Linked DNA regions of Homo sapiens: all the other regions are reported to be linked to region 1. The links are microRNA targets in miRTarBase. Many come from high-throughput screens and were not tested one by one. Region 1 holds a microRNA gene; each other region holds the end of a gene's coding sequence.

What was found. The annotated mature microRNA hsa-miR-5581-5p reads AGCCUUCCAGGAGAAAUGGAGA and lies in region 1 at 1,455-1,476, shown strand. An mRNA with a match to its seed (bases 2 to 7 or 8) in the 3' UTR can be bound and repressed. Matches are read on the target gene's strand: a 7mer-m8 pairs with bases 2 to 8, a 7mer-A1 pairs with bases 2 to 7 and ends in A, and an 8mer does both.
Region 2: the mRNA of RALY is a reported target of hsa-miR-5581-5p. The part of its 3' UTR that is shown has no 7-base or 8-base seed match.
Region 3: miRTarBase lists DNAAF9 as a target of hsa-miR-5581-5p. Seed matches in the 3' UTR shown: 7mer-m8 at 2,854-2,860 and 7mer-m8 at 1,954-1,960.
Region 4: the mRNA of UBE3C is a reported target of hsa-miR-5581-5p. Seed matches in the 3' UTR shown: 7mer-A1 at 1,041-1,047.

What each region holds. Positions count from the first base shown.
Region 1 is chr1:37,499,353-37,502,448 of GRCh38, reverse strand. It overlaps MIR5581 (microRNA 5581), which reads left to right and starts at 1,455; the gene lies at 1,455-1,514. MEAF6 (MYST/Esa1 associated factor 6) reads left to right here. Exons shown (of 7, transcript NM_001270875.3): 5 at 453-645.
Region 2 is chr20:34,078,108-34,081,107 of GRCh38, forward strand. RALY (RALY heterogeneous nuclear ribonucleoprotein) reads left to right here. Exons shown (of 10, transcript NM_016732.3): 9 at 398-446; 10 at 1,803-3,000. The coding sequence ends at 442. Among named protein-coding and RNA genes, the nearest start is that of MIR4755, 30 kb to the left of the region's middle.
Region 3 is chr20:3,249,711-3,252,806 of GRCh38, forward strand. DNAAF9 (dynein axonemal assembly factor 9) reads right to left here. Exons shown (of 37, transcript NM_001009984.3): 37 at 1-2,974. The coding sequence ends at 2,862. Among named protein-coding and RNA genes, the nearest start is that of SLC4A11, 12 kb to the left of the region's middle. RefSeq lists an enhancer at 573-1,073.
Region 4 is chr7:157,267,194-157,270,289 of GRCh38, forward strand. It overlaps UBE3C (ubiquitin protein ligase E3C), which reads left to right. Exons shown (of 23, transcript NM_014671.3): 23 at 392-2,177. The coding sequence ends at 562. Among named protein-coding and RNA genes, the nearest start is that of DNAJB6, 68 kb to the right of the region's middle.

The DNA of each region.
Region 1 (3,096 bases):
TCACTGTAGATTACATTTAATAAAAGCAAACTCAATAACAACTTGTGTAAACATATATATTTTTAAGACTATAGATCAGGCACAGTATCTCATGCCTGTGATCCCAGTGCTCTGGGAGGCTGAGGCAGGAGGATGGTTTGAGGCCAAGTGTTCAAGACCAGCTTGGACAACACAGCCAGACTCTCATCTCTATAAAAACAAAAACTGCCCTTAGAGCTGTTCTCTCTGGTTACATTGTTTCAGATTACATGCTTTTTCAGGACCTTTGGTCACTTGGATCCTTTGTATGTATCTTCTCTGTCAACATGTATCTTCTCTGTCAACATGTATCTTCTCTGTCAATTAGAGGATAGGGAATGGTTTTTTTCTACCTATTAGTGTTCATGTTGATGGACAGATTGCCTGAGGAGTACTGATGATGCATTTGGAAACTTGTGTTTTATTTCCTTCAGGGGAGCCAGGAAGTGGGACGGAAAGTGACACTTCTCCAGACTTCCACAATCAGGAAAATGAGCCCAGCCAGGAGGACCCTGAGGATCTGGATGGATCTGTGCAGGGAGTGAAACCTCAGAAGGCTGCTTCTTCTACTTCCTCAGGGAGTCACCACAGCAGCCATAAAAAGCGAAAGAATAAAAACCGGCACAGGTCAGTGGCAGGGATCCCACCCCCGCAGCTCCCATGACCATTGCTGTGAAGGGAATTGCCTAGAATAAAAACTCTTTAGGATTGCTGCAGACTCTTTCTGTTGCTGATGGCAAGAAAGTCATTAGGTCCAAGTGAACGGGCTAATTTGCTCAAAGGGAGGAATTGGTGGGCATTAGAGTAACCCTCAAGGAAGACTCCAGGACATTCTTCTCACTGTTTCTAGTGTAGAATAGTTTTATTCCATAAAAACCTTGTTTCATATGGTGAATATGGAATACTTTTAGAAGAGGAAAAGGAGAAATAGAAATGGAATCTGTGTAATAGTATTTGAAAAATGCCACTGGTACTTATTGGGAAGCTGTAAAGTGGGATAAAGTCTTCTGCTGGTAATTCTGATCTTTGCCTACTCTTATTTCTTTGTGGATGGAGAGAACTGATTTGACATGCCTTTTTTTCTCTTTAAATACAAGTTTTTTTTATTGCTTGTGATTTTTCTGTTTCTGTATTTCTCAGCAATATGCTGACTTCAGATACTGGAGGAACAGTATAAAGCCTGTAAAATATGAGAGTGTCTTCATAGGTAACGTGTAACATTGGTGCACCATGTTTTTTTGCAGTACATAATGAGATAGGAATGACGTCAGTGGACAGAGAGGCCAGGTGTCACCCAGAGAGGGTTTCAGCATTCACTCTGCCTGGGGTTTGTATGATCATGCTGGGGATTGTTAACTCAGATAATTGGAAATTATGCAGCTTGACCTAAAGAGTATAATGTCCGGTTTCTAGAGTAAGGAGTTTTGCTGGCCTCAAGCCTTCCAGGAGAAATGGAGACCCTATACATACCTGTTTCCATGCCTCCTAGAAGTTCCGAAGCCAGGGTAAGAGTTCTCATTCTAGAAACTGTACATTCGTTCTACTCCTCCTGGAAGACTGCGTGCTGAGCAGGTGAAAGGGGGCAATGCAAGGGATGGGTGGCATTCCCTGTTCTCCAGTTTGCTTCTGGATTTGGTTTACAAATCTGTAGGGTATTCCTTCATGCACCCAAGGTATTAAACTTGTTAGCTTCATGGATATGACAGTGCCTGGGGGTAATGTAGGATTAACTCTACCTGATTTGAACCTCCTTGATTGGCGTCAGCTGGTTCTTCAATTATTTTAAGAGTTTTTCTTGTTGATGGTAATGGTGTTTTCTAGACTGCAGAAATAGTATTTCCTTCAAATAATGACTGAGGACTGCTGCTTAACATTTTTCTGCAAACCAGAAGTCACCATCCTAATCGCATAACTGTAGTAAGAATTAGCAAAAATTGTATATCTACCTCTTCATATATTTTTGAAAGGCTATAGGTTATTTGACCAACTGTAGTAAGACTGGTGCTAGCTTATCACGAATAACAGAGAAATATATTCTTAAAAATTTTTTTAATTGTCAAGATAATTAAATGTCATGCTCTGTATTGCTTTTATTAAATTTACTCCAGTGTCATTTTTTTTTAATTTTTTATTTTTTTCAGACAGTCTTGCTCTGTCACCCAGGCTGGAGTGCAGTGGCACGATCTCAGCCCCTGCAGCCTCTGCTTCCTGGGTTCAAACGATTCTCCTGCCTCAGCCTCCTGAGTAGCTGGGATTACAGGCGTGCACCACTGTGCCCAGCTAATTTTTGTATTTTTAGTAGAGACACGTTTCACTGTGTTGGTGTGAACTACTGGCCTCAGGTGATCCACCTGCCTCGGCCTCCCAAAGTGCTGGGATTACTGGCATGAGCCACGGTGTCTGGCCTAGTGTCATTTTAAAGTAGTGATTATTTTCTTATTTCATAGTGTCTAGAGTAGGGAGGAAACTCTTTGAAAGTTTCGGGGACTTTTTCCCATTACTGATTAATAGTCTGTAGATAGCTGTTTATTTCAGGTAGTTCTTCATTTCCACTAATGATGTTATTAGCTGGTGACTGATAAAAAGGAGTTAAAGAGGAGCTAAACTTCATTTTCTTCTTGCAAGTTTCTAGCACATTTCCATAGGAACAATACTTCTTCCTATCCTAGGAGCTATCTCCTTCCAGAAAAATAGTAGTAGTTGTAAAAATCTTCGATATTAGTTACTGCTTCGCAAATAGTGTTTTCTGTTTGGAAAGCAGAATCCTGCTTTTTATTGCTGTCCTTTTGTCTTCCCTCTGATTTAATATCTGGCTGATCTCCCTTGGCCTTAGGCACTCATCTGCCCCAAGAAAGGAGAGTGAAGCTGATTTGTTTCCTTTCTAGGGAAGCAAAATTCAGTGTGCCTGAATGGCACACGAGCGGTCAGTTAAGGCTCTTGGACTCCTGCCATCTTTAGTCAGGAATTGTGTCTGCTCCAAGTCCCTTACTACTGCTGACTGATATCTCAGTAGGGCTGGCAGATTGGGGTGGGGACAGAGCATGGTGTCTATGTACATTGTTAAGTTTGTACCCAGTA
Region 2 (3,000 bases), not on the chromosome of region 1:
TTTGAGCGTAGCCTGATCCTTCATCTTATTTTCTCAGGCATAGCAGTGTCCATAAAGGCCCTAACAAAGACTTGGATGCCCCCAGAGATGGGGAGCTCACCAGTCTATAAGGCTTTCAGCCTTCTCCAGTGCAGGCTCTCTGCACAGAAATGGGGCTCCTGCCACTCCCAGAACACCCTTCACTGGCCTGTGTGGGGTCCTCAGACCACCCTTCCAAGTTCCCAAGCCAGCTTTGTTGGCTGGTCCCATAGTCATTCCCCTTGGCTGTTCCTGCGTCTTCTGACTGTGTCCTCTAGATGCCCTCTGGACCATGAAGTTTTTCTGGACAAATGGCTCAGGGCAGGACTCAGAGCTGGCAATGAGTGATGTGTGGTCTCTCTTACCTCCTCCCTATCAGGAACACAGCCAGGACACAGACGCGGATGATGGGGCCTTGCAGTAAGCAGGTACAGGGGTCCTGTCCTGATGGGCAGAGGGTGGGGAATCAGTGAAGTGGAGGTTGTGCCTTTTCCCTGGATTGGGCAGGAAGTGTCACGAAGCATACCTGGCCAAGTAGCACTGACTATACCCAAGAATGAAGTCCCCTCCATATCTAGCCATCCCGTCACACCCCTTCATGCTTGGGGCTTGCCATGCTGAGGAAGCAGGTGCCGTAGATGGGCCAGGCGGGCCCACCTAGCAAGGGTTCCTTCCCTCAGCACACTCAGCCATGTTGCCTGTCTCTGCCCTTGAGGAGCTCCTAGTCTGGTAGAGGAAGACATAAGCCATTACCACCTAGTGTGAGCAGGATAACAATAGAGCGAGGCCAGGTCATGGAAGAGATGATGTGTAGCTGAGCCTGCTAGTGATTGAGGGAGCAATGTTCCACACCAGGGGAATGGCCTTAGCCATACAGAGCTGTGACAGTCCTTGGTATGTGGTGAGGCCAAGAGCCTCCTGTGGCTGCAGTGCCCCCCTAGTTGGTAGAGGACTCTGCTTATTGTCAGAGGGTGATGATTGTGAAGGGCCGTATGTGTCAGGCTTAGGGGCTGGGATTTGATTCTTTCATGGGGAGGAAATGCCCTGTGTGACAGGAGCTGCACCTGCTTTCTCTGAGTTCATCTTCAATCCCACAAGCTGATGATTGTACCAATATAATAGATGTGGAAACAGACACTAAAGGGTGCAGGGAGATAAGGTAGTAGTTGGTGGAGCCTGGATTTCAGCCCAGTGGTGTGTGGCTTCAAAGCCCACTCTCTGGCCACTGTTTACCATCTACTCTGCCCTACCTTAAAGGAAAGCCAGGCCACACCTGGCTGTGCCTACTACTCTCTGACCCATTCCCTTGGGGTGGCTTGGGTGGAGGAAGGTCTCAAACACTAGTGTTTCCAGGGAGGTGTCTGGATAGATGACACATTTATGCTGTAGTAAGATATCCCACCAGCAAAGGCTTCCAGAAGAGCTTTAGAAAATTGTACATATGCAGTCTTCTTTTGGAACTTCTTGGTTTGTTTTGCCTGGGATGCAAACAAACCTCCATATCCAGCCATCCTGCTACACCCCTTTGTGCCTGGTGCTTTCCAAAGCTTGTTAAAATAGTTCACAGGTGAGTTATATGGGCTCAGGTGAGGAAATGGAGGTTCAGAGAGCGGGTGAGACTTGCCCAAGGTTACATGGCCAGGAAATTATGAGGCCACAGCCAGAGTGCAAGAATCTCTCTGTCTCCAGACATCATTCCACCCTTTCTTCCCTACCCCTTTTATCAGCAACAGGGTCTCTTCCTCTCAGCCTTAGTCTCTTCTTTCTCTCTCTCTCTTTCTCAGCCTGACAGGAGCAATGGCCACCAGCAGGTGAAGGGCATCGCTGCCCCAGGCCTCAAGCCGGGCACCCAACCCTGGATGCCACCCCCCAGCGGGTACCAGAGGAAAGCTGGCAGCAGGCGCCTCCTCCCCCAACGCATCCCAGCCAGTGCCATGTCCTCTGCAGGTGGAGTTACTGGCCTACTCCTTCCCCATGAGCCCTCCCTGTCTGCACTGCCCAGGCCAGAGGGTAGAGCACAGGGGTTTCCCCATACTACCTCCCCTCCCCAGGACACTCCCAGGCTTGGGTTTTTTCTATAGGTTTGGCGGGGGGCCACAGGGAGGGGACCCTGACAATAAAGAGATTGGATCCCAACCTGTTCTGAGATGGGATGGTTTGTGTTTTCTCATGAAGATATCCCGGCCCCTCTGCCAACCAAAAAGCTGGTCTAGGGTGCCTAATACTGATCCATCTGGACCTTAGTGTCCTCAGTGGTGATTAAAATGGCCAGTGGGGCCACTGGGGAGGGTTGGATATGCTGGCCCATGAGCATCTTGCTGGCTGAAGTGTCAAGCAGTTGTGACCCACTTGGTTTACCCCATAGTAGGTCAAGACCTTATCTCTTTCCCCAGCTTCTAAGTCTGGTCTTTCCCAGCTCTTAAAAGGATTCTAGAGTCTGCCAGTCTCTACCTTCTCTCTTCTGGCTTAGGACACTATAATTTTTTCATTTGGACGTTGTCCTCCCACCAGCCTCCCAGTCTTCTGCCTCTGCCCTGTACCATCTCCCAGCAGCCACGCAGTCTTTCTGAAACGTATCCCTTCCCTGCCTAAAATCCCTTTACTGACTCTTCATCATCAGGACAAAACCCTACCTCCTGAATGTAGGGTGTAAGATCCTGCTTACTCCAGCCTCTCCTGTTTCTTGTCACCACCCCTTTCCTGCCCCTGACACAAACCCTACATCTCAGTCTCACAAAACACACAAGTTCTTCACACTCCGGGCAGGTTTGGTAGCAAGGAATAGAGCGTACTCCAGTGACAGCAATCAGTAGGAAGTTTGCATCCGGAGACACGCAGCCTGTCTGCCCCTGTCTTGGGCCACCCGTCTAGACATTTGTTCTCTAACAATCAGCCGGGTTCCTTCAAACGTGTGCTGCTTATACATGCTCATTGTGTACTGCTAATGTCACCTACTTCCCCCTTCATTCCCCACAATGAATG
Region 3 (3,096 bases), not on the chromosome of region 1:
TTCGTAGTTTACAATCTTTGAATTGAACTTTTCCCTTTTGAGAAGCCCAAGGAGCAACCCAGAGCTTCTTACTGTGCAAAAATTCTCCAAAATCCTAATAGAATTTAGGAGGGAACTTTTTCTTGCGACCTGAAGGGCCCAGTGTCCAGGCTTCAGGTCAGATAGCCCCCAGGGCTCAGAGGGGCCGGCTCAACTCCTTGCCAACGGCCCTTCCCTAGGATAATAATCCCATTTCCTCCAATTTCTGTCTCCTTCTTCCAATCAAAAACAGAAAAATCCCATGTAAAAACATAAAATAACCCGTAACTTCAGCGACTTCAACATTATCCCACGCACTCTGGGTGATATAAACTGAAGCTGCTAATAGGAAAGTTAGCAAAAAGCATGTAAGCCCCGGGAGGACTGCCTGTCCCTGGGAACCCACCCCCGCTCTTTGCTGGGTCCCTGGATCCACTTCTAAGGTCAAAAGCAGTGTCATGGCCATTCCTTTGGAAACAGCAGAAGACCCTGCTCCTCCCACCTGGAGCGCCGCCTGGAGGAATCAAGTGGATACTGACCTTCACAGAACAGAGAGGCCTGGCAGGTTCCAGGAGGCATCCCCTGGCCTCAGTCCTCAAAGAGCTCACAGTGCACCGCGGGTGTGCCTTATCAGTGGGGCAGAGCAAGTGGCCCCAGGAATGCCCTTTCGCCAGCTGCCCCTTCACGTTCCCGAGTAGGCTGAGGAGCATCAACAGAGGCCTCAGCCAGTTTTGCCTTTTTGGCTTTGATGCTTCTTCACGTTTTGACTTTTTTCAATCACAGTTTCATATTCAAGTTGAGGTAATCACAGTTTTTTCTCTAAGAGGAGAGGAGTTGGGACAGTGGGGCAAGTTGGTGAGAGAGCATTTCTGTGAAGAGAAACAAAGACCACCACGTAGTACAGCCCCACATGGTGAGAAGACCCGCTCTCACGGGCGGGCTCCGACCCCTCTTTAAAAACTCTTCTGCAGCAGCCAGACTGCCAGGCCAGTGCAGTCAGGAAATGGCTCAAGCTCCTAAAGCTAGAGCTTTCATTTAAAACTTCACAGCAGCCCACTTAGAGAAATGGCCTGTGGTTCCCACCCCCCAACCCCTTTTCTAAGGCTGCTCAAGTTTGAGTTTTTAAAAAGAGTTCGGTAGAGCTAAAGGAAGCTACAGTAACTCACTGCTTATTAATCAATTGCACTTAAGATCTATGTTACTGATTCTGAAGCGAGGCAAGCCCTTGACGGACCGCAGCCTCTGGCCAGCCAGAAGTCAGGGGGCTCCCAGACTTAGGTTCCACAGTGGGGCCCTTGTCATCAGTGGCTTTTGGAGCTGGGACTGGAGCACGTGGGTCTTTTCAGAAGCCCTTCTTGATGCAAAATTTCTTATCAATGGTATCTGGAGTTTTGTTCATTTGGCTTCAAATTGTTTTTTTTTTTTTTCTAATATATTTTACTGACAAGCCCTTGAGAGCTGCTTTGCTACTTGCATGCAGGCCTCTGTGTGACCAGGCACACAGACTACATGTGCTCCATCTTGTCTCTCCGCTGCTCCAGGGGCCTTGCTCAAAAACCCCCTATATTACTGGAAACTGCTGGTTTTACCTATGTGCTTCTTCCTAAGGCATGCAAAAAAAAATATGTGAAATTCAGAAAACATTTACAGTTCAGGCAGCTGAGGCACTGAAGTCCTAAGAGACATCACCTAAATATCAGTGGCTGTGACTCCCCTGTCCCCCACACCAATTATGAAGGTCAGGCATGGGACACACTTGTAATTCCCCTCTGCTTTATGGTCCAGCTTAAAACGATGCCATTAGAAGGAATTCTAACTCAGGTATTGCAATTATTTGAAATTCCCAATCCTCAGGAGCCACACAAGCCCAGGGCCAGCAACAACACTTTGGGGAGCGGGGGGATGAGTTTCCTGAAGTTTGTGGCTGAAAAGCAGGCCTTCCTTGGCAAGGCTTGTGGGAGCGCTGGGTGCTGGAGACTGACCCCACAAGTGATCAGCCACCAGGCCTAAGACTAACCAGCTGCAGGACGCCCCCTTCCACAGTGAGGTGAAGCCTCGCCAGGGGGCCTGAGCAGCAGGCTTGCTCTTGTCCCTACATTAGGACACCCGAATGGTGTGACAGGAGAGCTAAAGAACCACCCACAAGGGGAAAAGCTGATGTCAACTTAAGAGCCACACACCTCTGGAAAGCAACAAGCCTCTCCTTCAGTTTAGTCCAGAAGGGAAATCCCCTCATTTGTGAACACATCATTCATCTCAACCCAAGCTGCTGGCTCTGTGGACTGGGCCTGGGCAAGGCTGTGCTGCTCCTCCCAGGACTGGGCCCACGGCCAGTACGGCCAGCTCCTTCAGGGAAACGGGCCTAGCAGGGGAGGCAGGCACTCCACTGGGGAAGATGGCTCTCGTGGAGCAGCATCTGAGGCTTGAGGCCTGTCGTGGCCTCGCCTCCCAGACACGGCCACAGTTCAGGCAGCCAGGGTTCCTTCTAAGTCCCAGTAGCTCCTCTGTGTAATCCTAATGCTTCTCCCCAACCTCAAGAGCCCAAAGGAGATCCTGTTATCAGAAACCCAGAGCTCCTGGACTGCCAGTTGCACACGTAGACGGGCAGGCCCCATCTGCTCATCCTTGAGTATTCCCCCGACCCCCAAAATCAATGGTGCAGGTGATGCTCTTCAGCGCTATACAGGGAATAAAGACAACATGCACTCAAGCCAGCCCACACAGGCCAAGGAGAACAAAGACAGCCCCTTAAGGGAGAGGCCTCCAGCAGAGCTGAGGTTAAGACACCCGTTCGTCCATCTCCAAGGTGGACATTCTGCAGGACGTACGGGCCCAGCCTTCCTCTAGGGCTTCAGCTCAAAGAGGTCATGATACTCCTGCTGTTCCAGCTCCTGGTTATACTTCTCAATTTCCCGGTTGGCTTCTTCCACGTAGTCATTCATGAACTGGTCCATGACTGGTATCTCATTAAGGAAGAGAGCTCTGAGCCTGGAGGACAAGGGAGGCTGCCTGAGCCCAGAGCGGCCTGTAGGCAGGTGAGGGGGGTTTGCTGAGGAAGTGAGTGTCTGGCCCATAGAG
Region 4 (3,096 bases), not on the chromosome of region 1:
TGGGCAGATCACAAAGTCAGGAGTTCAAGACCATCCTGGCCAACGTGGTGAAACCCCTTATCTAGGAAAAATCCAAAAATTAGCCAGGCATGGTGGCAGGCACCTGTAATCCCAGCTACTTGGGAGACTGAGGCAGGAGAATCGCTTGAACCTGGGAGGCAGAGGTTGCAGTGAGCTGAGATGGCGCCATTGCCCTCCAGCCTGGGCGACAGAGCTAGACTCCATCTCAAAGAAAACAAACAACAACAACAAAGCAAATGTGGTTTCGGGAAAATGTGACTGCAATGGTAACTTTACTGATTGGAGCAGGCACATTTTGTGTACTTTGTATTAAAACTCATGTAATGCCATGCTTGTTACAGTGACATCTTGCACACATGCTGTTTTTCAGGAGTTGTATCCCGCATTTTGTATTCACAACGGAGGCTCCGACCTTGAGCGGCTCCCCACAGCCAGCACCTGCATGAACCTGCTGAAGCTCCCCGAGTTCTATGACGAGACACTTTTGCGAAGTAAACTTCTCTATGCGATTGAATGTGCCGCTGGCTTTGAGCTGAGCTGAAGCTGATGCTGGGGTCAGACCCCTACAGAGAACCAGTGCTTCCTTCGTCAGCAGCGCCTCCCCAGACCCACGAGGATACTCACACTGCACGCCTGAGGCTCTCCTAAGCTCCTTCTTTCATTCTGCCATTCCTCCCTCCCTTCCTTTTTTAAATGATTTTTATTACGGTGTGGTCACTTATTTAGATGGACATTGCTTTTCAAATAACTTAAAATAACACGTTATGTGCCATGTGGCTACTTTAGTAATATTGCCAAGAAGAGCACAGTTTTTACACTAGTGGCATCTCAGTGAAATTAACCAAAGATGAAGCTTTGGCTTTGCTGGTGAGATCAGAGCCCTCCTGAGCAGGCAGCGCCACTCCAGGGTTCAGACAGGGCTGCACAGGCGGCAGAGATACAGGGTCTGAGGGCTGAGACGCCATGGGGCCGCTGCTGCTTATGTGGTTGGATTGTTTACAAGCCTCATTATTAAAACTGAAGGCATTTTTTTTTTCTGCTGCCTTTCCCAAAGTGGTTAGGTTTGGAAAAGAGATGATGATGGTAATATTTTATTTGTGCTTTTTAAGCCATTTCCCCAAATGGGACTAGCATGCTTGTTTTCAGTATACCGTGGCCTGCCTCATGATGGTTTGGAGATACTGTCTGTGGATGTGAGGTGGGGACTTCATTCATTGTCCTATTTCTATCTCCACTTTGTGCCTGGAGAGCTTTCAGGGGAGGTGGAGGAGGAGGGTCTGCCAAGCTACTGCAACATCTGTCACCCACTATACCCAGTTACTTGGGGGAGGACAGACACTGTGGTGTCATTAAAGTTGTTTGAACCAAAGTGGCGGCTGCATCTTTGTCCCGATGCTAGCCGTGCCGGTCTCCCATCATCCGCTCGCCCTCCTTTCCCCTGGGCTGCGCCCACTTGTCTTCCTGGATATTTGGGGGTGACTCGCCATGCTTGGCACCCTCTGCTTCCTGGTGCTGCTCTGACTCGAAGACGGGACAGTCCCTGGTGCACATCCAGGGAAGAGGAGTGTCGGTAGTTCTTGCAGTAGGCACTTTATCAGGACCTGACCTGTTGCTGGGTGATTTTAGTCTCTACAAACAGAAAGCGTTTCAAAGCGTCAGCTGTGGGAGCAGAGTGACCCTTTGCTGATGCTGGGGGGAGGGGATCTAAATCCTCATTTATCTCTTCTATGTCTCGTATTTTACTGTCACTGGAGGCTCTGTGGGCTGTCATAGTTAATTGACCATAATTAGCAATATACTTTTAAAGTGGGAAAGCTGAATGACACTTTTAAGACAATGAACATTATCAAAACAAAATGTATAATTTCTTAATTTGAATAATAAATTAAGCGTTTAAATGCTATTTGTAGTCTTGATATACAGAAATAAAATAATTAGGGTTGGTCTTTTTTATTTTAGGTTGTTTTATGTTGAATGTTCTATATCTTATTAGTTAATTTGTATATTTTATTAGTATTTTGGAAATAGCATATCTGAGACTGAAGAGAAATTGACAATTCACTTATTTGTGGTTTTTTTCTCAGCTATTCTGAGCTTATTTATTTATTTGTATGTTCTAATGGCTAAACATTTACATTAAATGTTTTTTTTCCCAAGATTGTGTTGGAGTCCTACCCCAAATCATTGTGATTAGCACAGCTTCTGAATGTTACTAGTTTTATCACAGGTGTTTGCATGTCACCAGCTAATGGAGTATAGTAAGATGGCCTACACTCACTGAGAATCAGAGGTCCTCGGGAGGATGCCTGTCATCAGGGGTGGGCCGAGCGTGGCTCCCAGGCCGGCGGCCGGTGTGCTCCTATCCGACCAGCCACGGGTGTTGGCTTCCCGAGTCTCCCATTGGGTCTGGCATTAGTTCTTGAAAAATTTCTGGAGGAAGATTCTTTGTTCTTTGTTTTGTTTGCCCTTTTCTACGTTCTGTCCTACTTTCTGCTTTCTGGTAATTTTGTACACAAACCTAAATGTTGACTTGGGGTTATTGCAGATACTTCTCATGAGGTGTTATCTGCAGAGAGATCTTTGTTTTGGTATCCTGAGCTCGTTAAGGCAGCTTTATCGATTGCAGTGGTTTACAGGATGGTGTGTGCTTTTGCGGAGTGTGGGAAACCAGATACTGCATCCCTGCCCATCGTGAGCCTGCAGTCTACACTCTATGTATCCCTGCCGTTGACATGCAGGCCTCCAGTGGTGGAACTGGGAGCACGGGAAAGGCTGTGGTGGGGTTAATGACTCCTTCCAGGAACTTCCTGAGGAGGTGAGTGGTGAACCTGAAATAATTGAATACGTAAGCTTTCTCATACTTGAAAGAAATAAACAGCCAAAGGCATATGGTAACTCAAATAGAAATTCAGGGCATGCTCAGCTCTTTCAGATCCACCTGCTCCGGGTCAGCAAGCATCACAACTAGCAGGGTAGTCTAGGAAGTGACGCAGCCACCCTGTGCATCCCTCACAGAACAGCAGGTTCACCTGGAGGTTTTTCTAATGAGAAATTACCTAGACTTCCCAAACACGG